2 linked regions of the Homo sapiens genome follow. The protein of the gene in region 1 binds, or shares a complex with, the protein of each later gene. Each region holds a gene or a part of one and is shown on either strand. Other genes may lie near its edges.

Evidence for each region.
Region 2: KANSL3 (region 1) and KANSL1 share a complex: the UniProt entries of both Homo sapiens proteins name them as parts of the NSL complex.

Annotation. Positions count from the first base shown.
Region 1 is NC_000002.12:96,628,302-96,635,334, forward strand, and holds part of KANSL3 (KAT8 regulatory NSL complex subunit 3), read right to left. Parts: intron 3,243-7,033; exon of another isoform or gene 3,182-3,242; coding exon 3,011-3,181; intron 1-3,010. UniProt on the Homo sapiens protein: Non-catalytic component of the NSL histone acetyltransferase complex, a multiprotein complex that mediates histone H4 acetylation at 'Lys-5'- and 'Lys-8' (H4K5ac and H4K8ac) at transcription start sites and promotes transcription initiation.
Region 2 is NC_000017.11:46,169,407-46,176,439, forward strand, and holds part of KANSL1 (KAT8 regulatory NSL complex subunit 1), read right to left. Parts: intron 2,827-7,033; 5' UTR 2,738-2,826; coding exon 1,449-2,737; intron 1-1,448. UniProt on the Homo sapiens protein: Non-catalytic component of the NSL histone acetyltransferase complex, a multiprotein complex that mediates histone H4 acetylation at 'Lys-5'- and 'Lys-8' (H4K5ac and H4K8ac) at transcription start sites and promotes transcription initiation.

The DNA.
Region 1 (7,033 bases):
CTGGCCAGGCCACCCCAGTGTCTCTTATGCTTTGCAGTTATATCTCTCCTTATAAATTAAGAAACTCAGCCAAGTGCAGTGGCTCACACCTATAATCCTAGCACTTTGGGAGGCAAAGGTGGGCAGACCACTTGAGCCAGGAGTTTGAGACCAGCCTAGGCAACATGGTGAAACCCAATCTCTACAAAAACTACAAAAATTAAGAAATGGTGACGTACTCCTGTAGTCCCAGCTACTTGGGAGGTTAAGGTTCCCACCCGGGAGAATCACCTGAGTCCTGGAGGTCAAGGCTTGTAGTGAGCTGAGATCGTGCCACTGCACTGCAGTCTGGGTGACAGAGTGAGACCCTGTCTCAAAAAAAAGAAAAAAGAAACAAACTGGTATTTATAGTATTATTAAGTCTCTAATGACTTTGATAAGTATGAATTGTCCACAAAAACCTCTTAATCATAACCATGGATAAACTGACAAAAAAAAAAAAAATCACACAGTTCTCCTATGTACTTTCTGAAATTGCAAAGGACAAGGTAGTAGAAAATACCACAAAGGGATACATAACCATACCAGGCCACCTTGTTCAGCCACCACTAACTGGTCTTAATCTCTTCTTACTGCCCTTAATTAAGGCAGAGGGTATGGTAGTTGAGAACACTGGGTTCTGGAGTCAGGCTGCTTGGTTTGAACAAAATCCTTCTCCATCACTTCCTAATTAAGGTTTCTTAAACACCCTGAGCTCAGTTTCTTCATCCTGTTGAGCAGAGATGAAGGGGGGATATACCTCCAAGAGTCATTGGGAGGATTAAGAGACAATGCATTTGAAGAGACATTGATACAATGTCTGGCACCTAGAAAGCACTCAACAAACGGTAGCTCCTTTTTGTTATTACCATCGTCGTTATTTTTTATTATTAACTGTAAAAATAGTGATAAATCCTTTTGCTGAATATACTGACTCTAGCAATATTCCAGTAGTTGATCTTCATTCGTAGCAGTTTTCTTCTTTATCTGAAGCTCAAAAGAGCTTTTTTTTCTTTTTTTGAGATGGTGTTTCACTCTTGGTGCCCAGACTGGAGTGCAATGGCACGATCTCGGCTCACCACAACCTCCGCCTCCCAGGTTCAAGTGATTCTCCTGCCTCAGCCTCCCGAGTAGCTGGGATTACAGGCATGCGCCACCACACCCAGCTAATTTTGTATTTTTAGCAGAGACAGAGTTTCTCCATGTTGGTCAGGCTGGTCTTGAACTCCCGACCTCAGGTGATCCACCCGCCTCAACCTCCCAAAGTACTGGGATTACAGGCGTGAGAAAAGAGCTTCTTAAGGCACTAAATTAATTCCAATGCAAGACCCCAACCAACTTCTTCACAAGCTTTTTCAACCAAGGTGCAGAACTGCTCCTCCCTCAACAGCTGCTGTTTTGATCACACAAGCACACCTGTTCAATCTCATTCCCAACTTCCAACCAGCTTCAGAAGTCATGTCAATCACCTCAAACTTTCTACCCCTCTTTCTCTCTATTATAAAATAAGGGTTCTCCAAAATTATGGAAAGTTACCACCTACCAACTCCTGATATAAGAAGTAACATTTCCTTATATATATAGTAGATATATGGATACACAGACAAAAAGCCATCAACAAAATATAAGTTGAAACCACAATGAGATGCCACTTTACACGCAGTAGAATGGTTATAATTTTTTTAAAAAAGAAGAAAATCAGTAAGTGTTGGCAAGGATATGGAGAAACTAGAACTCTCATACACTGCTGGTAGGAATGTAAAATGGTACAGCCACTTTGGAAAACAGTCTGGCAATTCCTCAAAGGTTAAATACAGAGTTATCATATGACCCAACAAGTCCACTCCCAGGTATATAACTAAGAGAATTAAAAACTTAGATCCACACAAAAACTTGTATGCAAATGTTCATAATAGCATTATTCACAATTGCCAAAAAATGAAAACAATCTAAATATCTATCAACTGATTAATGAATAAATAAAATGTGGGCTATCCATACAATGTAATGTCATTTGGCAATAAAAAGCATGAAGTGCTGATACACGCAACCACATGGATAAACCTTGAAAACATCATGCTGGGTGAAAGAAGCCAGTAGGAAAAGACCACATATTGCATGATTCCATTTATATGAAATGTCCAGAATAGGCAAATCTATAAAGACAAAAGTCAATTAGTGCTTCCTAGGGACCAGAGAAGCTGGGAGGAAACGGGAAGTAACTGTTTATGGGTAAGAGGTTTCTTTTTAGGATGATGAAAATGTTTATCAAATTGATAGTGGTGATGAATATACAACTCTGACTATACTAAAAACCAATGACTGTACATATTAAATAGCTGAATTGTATGGTATGTAAATAATATCCCCAAAAAGCTGTTATGTAATTAGGTAAATGTTTACCAAATGAACAGGGACAAATAACCAGGAGAGGAGTGCTGAGTCCCCTGGGGGCAGTAGAAAGCTTGGGAACAAAACTAGCCAGTATACTCGTGAAAATAGGCTTCAGTGTGCCCTCCATAGCCTGCAAATCTATTTTTAAAAGCCACTCAAACATCTGTTAGCTTTTCATGTGACTTCACAACTTCCATCATCCTAGTTATAAACCATTTAAACACAATATCTTACAAATGTACATTTCATTTTTTTGCAGTTTGGGTAACCCCTATATCATAACTTATACAACAGAAGCTACTACAGAGCTAGTCATATGTATCAAATTTAATTCACTTATTTATTCAACAAACATTATATGCCTACTGTGTGCCAGACAACGTCCTAGTGTGAAGTATGCAAAGATGGCTGAGATGTAAGCCCTACTCTCAAGGAGCTCACACACAGCATGGTGAACTGAGAGTTATAATGTGAGACTTTGGAGAACACTCTGACTTGTGTTGCTGCAAATGAAATAAGGTCCTAATAAGTGTTATTTCAATGAAGATGATACAAAATAATTACAGGGCAGTGATCATCCTCCTGATGAGCAGCCTACCTGTTGACATGCTCCTCCCAGTCCTCTGGTGGAGGAGGGGCATCTGCATCAGTCCTGGCAAAGATGACATGCCGTTCACACTCATTCATCACGCTGCGTGCCTTCTGATTGTCATAGAGTGGCATAGGCGTTGATGTGACCGTCTCCACATCTATTGGGACGTCTGATTCACTGTAAACAGGTGAGGAAATAGGACCGGGCCACACATACTTCACAGGTATTTAACAATCATCTGGTTGACAAAAAATGTATCTTTAATACAGTCAGCTTTAAATTACGCATAAGCACATTATATTCACAAGAAAATTTTGATCCAAAGTCATCTTTCCCACACTTGTCTAGATCTCTGCCCTCTCAGACATGATGGTATGTACTGGAAGAACACAAAGTCATTTTTTCAATGAGTCTATATAAAAAATGATAAACATCTATTTTTTTTTTAAGATAAATATGGGCCAGGTGCACTGGCTCACACCTGTAATACCACCACTTTGGGAAGCCGAGGCAGGTGGATTGCTTGAACTCAGGAGTTCAAGACCAGCCTGGGCAACATGAGGAAACCCTGTCTCTACCAAAAATACAAAAATTAGCTGGGCATGTGGCACACACCTGTGATCCCAGCTACTAAGGAGGCTAAGGTGGGAGGACTGCTGGAACCCGGGAAGTCAAGGCTGCAGTGAGCCATGATTGCATCACTGCACTCCAGCCTGGGTGACAGAGCAAGACCTGGTCTCAAAAATAAATAAATAAATGACAAATACAGCCAGACACAGTGATTCACACCTGTAATCCCAGCACTTGGGAGGCTGAAGCAGGAGGATCACTTAAGCCCAGGAGTGAGCTGGTCTCAAAAAATAAATAAATAAATGACAAATATAGCCAGGCACAGTGATTCATACTTGTAATCCCAGTACTTTGGAAGGCTGAAGGAGGATTGTTTAAGCCCAGAAGTTCAAGACCAGTTTGGCAATATGGCAAAACCCCGTCTCTAAAACAAACACAAAAATTAGCCAGGCATGGTGGTATGCGCCTGCAGTCCCAGAAACTGAAGTGGGAGGATGGCTTGCTTGAGCCCAGGAGGTTGAGGCTACAGTCAGCTCTGATCATGCCACTGCACTCCAGTCTGGGTGACACGGCAAGACCCAGTCTCAAAAAAAAGGACAATATATTCCATAAGCAAGTTGATTTGGCTCAAGCTAATATTTTTAAAAGATCACTTTCAATTTTTGTTTAGTAGGCTACAGCTCAGGAGTGGAATTTAGAAGACCAGCTAGGCAGCCACTGCAGTTGACTGAGATGGGCCAGAAATCATGAGAGCTCGTTTAGGGACAAGAACAGTACAAATGGAGAAAAGTGGCTAACAAGTTGATTGCCTAGATACTGTTCAATACAGTAGGTATAAGCCACACACGACTACTTAAATTGAGGCAGGTGGATCACGAGGTCAGATCGAGACTATCCTGGCTAACATGGAGAAACCCCGTCTCTACTAAAAATACAAAAATTTAGCCAGCCATGGTAGCAGGCATCTGTAGTCCCAGCTACTCAGGACACTGAGGAAGGAGAACGGTGTGAACCCAGGAGGCGGAGCTTGCAGTGAGCCGAGATTGCGCCACTGCACTCCAGACTGGGAGACAGAGCGAGACTCCATCTCAAAAAAAAAAAAAAAAAAAAAATTACTGGGCACAAGGGCTCACAAGGGCTCAGGCTTGTAATCCCAGCACTTTGGGAGGCCAAGGTGGGCAGAACACTTGAGCCCACAAGTTCAACAGTGTGGGCAACATGGTGAAACCCCGTCTCTACTGAAAATACAGAAATTAGCTTGTGGTCCCAGCTACATGGGAGGCTGAGGTGGGAGATCAACTGAGCCTGGGAGGCGGACGTTGCAGTGAGCCAAAATTGCACCACTGTACTTCAGTCTGGGTGACAGAGACCTCGGCCCAAAAAAAAAAAATTTAAATAGAATTAAATATTCAGGCTGGGCGTAGTGGCTCGCGCCTGTAAACCCAACATTTTGGGAGGCCAAGGCGGGTGGATCACCTTAGGTCACGAGTTCGAGACCAGCTTGGCCAACATGGTAAAACCCCATCTCTACTTAAAAAAAACAAAAATTAGGGTGTGGTGGCACGTGCCTGTAGTCCCAGCTACTCAGGAGGCTGAGGCAGGAGAATGGCGTGAACCCGGGAGACGGAGGTTGCAGTGAGCCGAGATCACACCACTGCACCCCAGCCTGGGCAACAGAGCGAGACTCTGTCTCAAAAAAAAAAAAAAAGGCCGGACATGGTGGCTCATGCCGGTAATCCCAGCACTCTGGGAGGCAGAGGCATGCGGATTGCCTGAGCTCAGGAGTTTGCAACCAGCCTGGGCAACATGGTGAAACCTCGTCTCTACTAAACACAAAAAATTAGCTGGGTGTGGCAGCGTGCACCTATAGTCCCAGCTACTTGGGAGACTGCAGCAGGAGAATTGCTTGAATCCGGGAGGCGGAGGTTACCATGAGCCAAGATTGCACCACTGCACTCCAGCCTGGGTGACAGAGCAAGACTCCGTCTCAAAAAAATAAAAAAATAAAAAATTCAGTTCCGTAGTGACGTTAGCCACATTTCAAGCATTCAACAGATACACGTGGCGGCAGTTACCACACTGGACATCCCAGGTATAGAACATTCCTATTATTACAGAGAGTTCTGTTAAACAGTGCTGGTCTAGAGTTTTAAATTCATACAAACTTTCCCTTTCATTAGCAAGTCAACTGGTAGTTATTTAATATATACTGTAAAGTCTATGATTTCCTTTCTGTATGATTATCTAAGACAGATGACCTGGAATGCACATACCTTAGCTACTTAGCTCATTTTGTACAGAGCCTAGAACAGAAACAAATATAAATGAACATCTAAAGGTCTTTCATATTTTAAAATGAGATCTAGCTGGGCATAGTGGCTCACGCCTGTAATCCCAGCACTTTGGGAGGCCGAGGCAGGTGGATTGCTTAAAGTCATGAGTTCAAGACGAGCCTGACCAACATGGTGAAACTCCGTCTCTACTAAAAATATTAGCCAGGCATGGTGGCGGGTGCCTATAATCCCAGCTACTTGGGAGGCTGAGGCAGGAGAATTGCTTGAACCCAGGAGGCAGAGGTTGCAGTGAGCCAAGATTGCGCCATTGCGCTCCAGCCTGGGCAACAGAGACTCCGTCTCAAAAAAAAAAAAAAAGAAAGTAAGAAACAAATCCTAGTGCCCCAAGGGTCCTTCCCCACTTTATGATACATTGCACCAACTTTGTCACCCCAAATACTATGCCAAACAAACTGGTCTAGTGGCTACCTGCCAAACTTTATGTTAACTTTTTGACTTCAGTGACCTTACTGCATCCATTTCCAATGACTGAAATAATTACATCATTATGAAATGAAATGAAATCATGTGCAGCTAGATTTGGTGGTGGGCAAAAGAGCTGATTATCTTCTCCAGGCCAGACATTGAGCTAGTACTTGGATATGTGTAGCTAAAAGAGAACTCTTGATTTCACCATCACAAACCTATCCTCCTCCAGTCTTCCCTAACTCATGGCACCACCCAACTGCTCAAGCCAGAAATCTGTCATCCTAATTTTACCTTTCCCTTTAACCCTGGTTCTTGCTCTTCCTTCCAATTCACCATAGCAGATCCTATTAACCTATTCACTCTACCTATGAAATACATCTCAAAGTCATCTATATTTCTCCATTTGTACTGTTCCTGCCCTATACAAGATATCACGATTTCTGGCCCATCTCAGTCCATTGCAGTGGCAGCCTGCAGCTGGTCTTGTAAGTTCTACTCCTGCACTATAATATACTCAACAAAAAATCCAAAATGATCTTTTTAAAGTATAAATTGAATCTCTAGTTTAAGATCCTTCAGTGACTTCTTACCACTCTTAGAATCAAATTCCTTCACGAGGTAACCCTTGCCAACTTCTCCCTACCTCCCACTTATACCCCTACTGCTATTATATTCTGGCCACACTGGCCTAAAAGAG
Region 2 (7,033 bases), on another chromosome or scaffold:
AAAGTTTCATTTCAGATACAATATCCATGCAGATAATATAAACAAAATTGGGAAACCAGAAAATTTACTTTTAAAAATCATAGCTGTCTCAACAACCAAACACTCCAGTGAAAATCTTCATCACCTTTTAATACAGTCAAGGAAACACCAATTCTTCCCACATATTCATCTTTTTCAGCCTTCTCTAGTAAGCCAGCCTCTAGCAAAGAGAAAATGAAAGATCTGCTAGTCAATTATCCTGCCCCTCTTTTCCAACTCCTCATGCTCTCTCTCAAATCTGATATTCCTAAGGAGATAAATGCACTTATTTAACATGTATCTTTAAGTATGTTATAATATAGTACTGCTTTATTTAATTAAGTACATAGATGCTGAATTGGGAGTGACAGGAATGAAACGTCTCTGTCTCCACCATGCCAATTTGGAGTGCCACCCATAAAAAGCTTATGTAAAATTTTCTCAAACCAACAGATTTAGAAAAACCAGTAAGATGAGGTGGGCGGATCACGAGGTCAGGAGTTTGAGGCCAGCCTGGTCGACACGGTGAAACTCAGTCTCTACTTAAGAAAAGAAAAAAGAAAAAAATTAGCCTGACTTGGTGGCGGGTACCTGTAATCCCAGCTACTTAGGGAGGCTGAGGCCCGAGAATCACCTGAACCCAGGAGCCAGAGGCTTCAGTGAGCTGAGATCGCACTACTGCACTCCTGCACTCCAGCCTGGGCGACAGAGCGGAACTGTCTCAAAACAAAACAAAACAAAAAACAACAAAAAAAACAACCCAGTAAGAATTTATTCCAAATACATCAATACATTTAACTCAGCTTAACAAATCTGCTTAAAATGGGCTTTTTTTTTTTTTTAATAGGAAGAGAGTCAGGTTGTGAAACTAGACTGTGCTTGGAGGCGATGTATTAAATATTCTGAAGCATTTTCTAATTGTCAGTCCTTAAAATGTAAGAAAATCTCAAGTGTTAAAATTGAAGACTGGGTGTGCTCTCTGCTGAAAGTTCAATCAAAAGCAACTGTAATTTCCTACAAAGGTAACTAGGTCAACTCAGCATTTGTCCCTGCTTACTGGAAACAACAAAATCTCAACAATCAGGCCATTAACTTATCATGTCCTATATATAGTTTCAAAAGAAATCTAAATTCACTCTTAAAGAGGTACTAGTACAATTTTACACATAAGATGTCTCCTAGTTATTTTTCTTAGACTTCAAAAGGAAATTACCACCATTTAGACTACAACAATACAACCCTACAGCAAAAGTATCTTCCCCTTCTTCACTAGCATGTATATGCACTCATCTACCCAACATCAGGGAAAAAACAAACAGAACCTAGACACCTATGTACAAAGAATCACATTCTCTCCATAATGGCGATTCATTCATTCTTCCTTGTGCCAACATTTCTCAAGAATGCTATCATGCATGAGGTCTACTCACAGGGGTACATGACGCTGCTCGGGATCAGCTCTGGTCAGTTCTTCCTCTTCAATATCAGACTCCCCTCCTGAACTACTGTCAGTGACATCTGAATCAAATGCCTGTTCACTGCACCTCAAGTTGGCTATGCCACTAGCTGTAAATCTCTCCAATTCTTCTGAAATTGAATTGCTTTTCAGAAAGTTGCTAAGTCCCTCTGAAGTGGTGGTCTCACTGGCAGCTTTTCTCAAGGCAGCTTCAGCCTTTCGAGTCAGCATCAACTGGCTCCGTGGTCTCAAGGATTCCAAGTTTGGCAGTTTGCTCAAAGTCTTCTCCAAAAATCCACCCAGCTGATGTTGTATATGCCTCTCAACCTGCTTGGCTTGCACAACCTGTAAGCGCTTTTGTAATCTGCGGGCACGGCTCTCAATGTCAGCCTGTCGCCGCAGTAAAGCTGTTATCCTTGTGTCAGAATCTAAAGCACTGAAAAGAATGGAAGACAGGGGAGACTTTTTACCCTCCAATTTGACACCCCCCAAGTTAGAGCTGGAGTCTGTACCAGGTGATAATCTACTGCTTCCTTGAAGTGCCGGCTGTTCCATGGAATTGACAGAGGATTTGTTTGCAGTGCTATTATTGCTATACAAAGTTGTGTGTTCTACATCAAGGCTTCTATGTGGAAGAGTGCAATTGGTCATACCCCCCTTCAAGTCCCCAGATTCAGATCCTCCCATTTCACCCCCATGAAGAGCAGATGAAGTGAGAGCCCGTTTTCCCCCATTGAGGGAAGTGGAATTGTCATGATCAGAATGTGTTGAACTTTTAGTCAATTTCTTAGCCAACCCATTTACAGGTGCTTGTGGCAGAGCTGTCTGACCACTCGTATTCATGGTTCTAAGATTTTCTAAGGAAAACTCCAAAACTGGCTGTCTCCCCAACAGCTCAGCTCGGAGTTCATAGGACTGAGATAAGAGAGGATGAGATTTAAGGACTGTCTGCTTGCTGAAGACCCCTTGCAACTTCAAAGACTCCTTTGAGGGAACAGATGTTACATCAGAGCAGAGATAAGATGCCACCAGTGGTTGCAGCTTTCCCAAGTCTTCCTTGGTAGGATTATTTCGGAAATCTAGGCTGGGATCCTCTGCAGCAATGGCTTTTCTTTTGGTTCCGTTGGCAGCAATAAGGATGTTGGCGTTGCCGTTATTTTCGGCACTGCCAGGGGACAAGGTAGAGGATGGGGGAGCCAGTTTGAACCGGATATGGTGTGCTTCAGCTGCTGCGTCAGTGAGAGCGGGCGCCATCGCAGCCATTCAGCACAGAGAGACAGGAAGTCCAGCCTCTCCCGATGCCGAGGCCGAGGCCAGCTCCACGGCCCCTTACTGCCTCCCCAGAGAACAGACTAGAAGAGAAAGGAGAAAAGAATATTAGAAATACAAGCACTTTTAAAAACATGTATATTTTTAACAAAAGCACTACTTGAGGCTGTTGTCTAAACTGCCTCCAGAAAGAAAACACTCTGGAGCTAACTGTACCACAGTTATTCTAGAGACCCAAATATCTTTCATCTGGGAGAAAGGGGGAGGCAAAATCCCTGCACAAGGGAAGGAAGAATTGCACCCTTCTTGTCATTTGTTACCACAGATTGAAAGGTGCCAAAACACAAGTTCGATTCAGAGAAAATCACAGATTGTTAAAATTAAATCATCTCCATTAAAAAAAAATCTCTTTAAGCTTGTTGAAATAAATGGATTTAAAGCAAGACACATCAAACTAAGCAATAATTAAACAGAAAAAAATTAGTAAGGAATTCCCGTGTTCACTAAAAAAAGTATGCCAAATATCACAGGTCTGTGCATTTTTCTGGCCAGGGAATCCAGTTTTCATCAGCTTCTCACTTCTCTAGAAGTATAGATTATACTACAAAGCTAACTGTACCACATCTGTAATACCAACTTGTTTCATCAGTTTTCTTTTCTTTCAGATCAAAGTGGTCATCAATATCTTCTCTACTGGCTTCTTCCTCTCAGCCTAGGAATTTACTCAAGTATCTTCTGCCCTCAGTACAGCCTCTCTCTCATACTTAATTGCCCAAATATCTCTCTTTCCCTTTACCCCAAAACTTCTCTAAGAATAGTATAAATAACTGTCTCTGCACTCTTCACTCTTCCATAATCTGGATTTCACCCCCTACTGCTCTGGCAAAGGTGACCAGTAATCTTATTATCAAATCCAATGGTCAAACCTCAGTCCCCATTCTATCTGACTTCTCTGAAGCACTGGACAATACCGACCTTCTTCTAATTCTTTCCTGATGTCCTTGTACTATCATCCTCTTCTCTTCCTCCTGGACCCTTAAATGCTGGTGCTGCACAAGGTCCCTTCTGCCCTCTTCTCTCTCAACAACCACTAGTATGGTGAGGTTTCTTAACCATAAGAAAAACTTCTGAGCTGCACTAATCAAGATTCCTATAACCTCTATGTTCCTCAAGCCCCCTGAAGCTCAGAATTCACTTTCTCCTTCCAGCACACTATTCCGCATCCTGTTTCATTACCTTAAGTAATGACACTGCTTTTATTTAGTAACCAAGCTAAAAATCTCAGTCATTTGCCTCTGTTTGATCCCCCTTGATCTATGTGGTCTGGGAGCCAAAGGAAACATACGTAAAGAACTAAGCCAGTTGTTCTTTAAAGTGTGGTCTCTGGACTTCTGGGGATCTCACAGGCTATTTTGGAGGTTCGTGAAATCAAAGGTATTTTCATAGCAATACTAGAATATTATCTGCCTTTTACACTGTGTTGACATTTGCAATCAGAGTACAAAAACAAAGGTGAACAAAACTGCTGGTACATTATTAGCACAAATCAAGGAAGAGGCACCAAACTATACTAATAGTCATTATACTCTCCACTCAGTTTTTCTTTTTTTAAGGGAGTTCCACTTAAGATGTCCTTGATGAACAGCAAAAATTATGAATTATCTTGAGCCTTTAGTGCATTTTTTAAAAATATTCTTTGTGATGAAAGGGAAAGTATGCATAAAGCACTCTGCTGCTTTATGAATTCTCAGGAAAAAGCACAGTACAACTGAGTTGCAAAATGAACTAGAGCTTTGTTCATGGAACACGATTTTTACTTGGCAGAACTACTGACAAACATTATTTGAAACCTGCTTCACTAGCAGACATTTCCTTGCAAATGAACAAAGTGAACCTGTCACTTCAAGGAAGACCACTGACGATATTTGCTGCCAATAATAAAATCTGAATTTTTTAGGCAAAGATTAGTGTTTTTGAAAACTTGTATCAACAATCATGAACTTAAACATTTTCCCAATATTTTATTTGGTGGGTGTGGATGTGTGTGTGTGTGTTTAACAGAGTCTTGCTCTGTCGCCACGCTGGAGTGCAGTGGTATGATCTCAGCTCACTGTAACCTCTGCCTCCTGGGTTCAAGTGATTCTCCTGCCTCAGCCTCCCGTGTAGCTGGGACTACAGGCACGTGCCACCACGCCTGGCTAATTTTTGTATTTTTAGTAGAGACAGGGTTTCACCATGTTGGCCAGGATGGTCACAATCTCCTGACCTCATGATCCGCCCACCTCGGCCTTCCAAAGTGCTGGGATTACAGGCCTAAGCTGCCACATTCGGACTTTCTGAATATTTTAAAAGCCATTTCTGATTTAACAGACTTGTGACGATATTAATGAACGTGAATTTTTGATTGCATATAATGTAATGTGTAACATTTGGAAGATCTGCATAACCCAGTGAACGATAAAATGTCCAGTGAATGTCAGGAAATCATGCATGGGTAAAAAGTTTAAGTGCAAGACAAATCATTTATTTGTTGCTGTTATTTTGAAACAGGGTCTAGCTCTGTCACCCAAGCTAGAGTGCAGCGGCACAATCATGGCTCACTGAAGCCTCAACCTCCTGGGCTCAAGTGATCCTCCTGCATCAGCCTCCTAGTAGCTGGGACTATAGGTGTGTGCCACCATGCCCGGCTAATTTTTTGAATTTTTGTAGAGATGGAATTTCATTTTGTTGCCCAGGCTGCTATCAAACTCCCAGCTTCAGCCTTCCAAACTCCTGGGATTATAGGCATAAGCCGCCATGCCCAGCCTGAATTACTTATTAAATATTTTTTAAATTTCTCAAAGTTTATAAGAAAAACAATTTATTTGCTGTTCTCAACAAATTTTAAGAGTTAAAAAAGGGTCCTGAGACCAAAATGCTTGTGAAATCACTGGACTAAGCACCCCCCTCCCTGCCCCAAATGAGGGCAATCTCCAATTTAATCAAAAATGCTTATCTTTGGAGCAATACCAACACAGGATGGTAGGCCCTACAGGACCACAGTAAGCTTCTTTATAGTATGACAATTTGAATCATTAACATAAAAATACTCAAATAAATGACTGAGAAAACATTATTCATAAAAGCACCAATATACATATGGGTCGAATCTGTCTTATTGCTGTGTGTGTGTGTGTGTGTGTGTGTGTGTGTGTGTGTGTGTGTGTGTGTGTGTTTCTGAGATGTAGTCTCGCTCTGTCGCCCAGGCTGGAGTGCAGTGGCGTGATCTCGGCTCACTGCAACCTCCGCCTCCTGTGTTGGAGTGATTCTCCTGCTTCAGCCTCCCGAGTAGCTGGGACTTCAGGCATGTGTCACCATGCCCAGATAATTTTTGTATTTTTAATGGAGATGGAGTTTCACCACGTTGGCCAAGCTGGTCTCAAACTCCTGACCTCAGGTGATCCGCTTGCCTCAGCATCCCAAAGTGCTAGGATTACAGGTGTGATCCACTGTGCCTGGCCTCATATAATTATTAACACCAAAAGTTTCTTGTTCCAGGGTTGTATTTTAACCAACACTCTTTATGAACTAGATTTTCAGGGCTTATGTAGTTTTCTCCTGTGGGCTTTCTGGCATATGGCATTCTGTGTGGCACAAATTATTCTATGTTGTCTTTTCCCATTTCTAACTTTAAATATAATACTAATTACTAATATATTATTAAACATTGTGTTACAGACCAGTTGACAGTACTAATTCCTGTTATTAAACATTGTGTTATAGACCAGTTGACAGCTGGACCAATATAGTTGTTAAAAATATTTTGAGTCACTTTTATAATATGCAAAGGGTTTTTCCCATGGACAAACGAAAATCACTACCAGATAATTCCCATCAATTCAATCTCCTCCCCTTTTGAATGTCAATATGTAGTTGATATGAGCAATGCAAGGAGGCATATTATCAGTGCCAGATGATTAATACAACATGTGAAGAGTAATTGTACCCTACTGCCTGACAGCACTACAGTAAGACTTAGCAAGGGCAGGAAACAGCTTCCCTCTGAGGACCCAAGCAAGGGCACAAATATGCTTTATGACTTACATAAAACTTAGGAAAACCCAGGCTCACTCCAGCACAAATGAAAAAGAGGGTCATAATTAACATCACATCACAGAAGGTGCTTAAGTAGTAAACTTCTCAAAGTTATTCTGAGATTATTCAATTCTTTAAAGCTTACAACTTTAAGAAAAAATGCCGGCTTAAATCCCATCTACTCCAGCTGGGCACAGTGGCTCACGCCTGTAATCC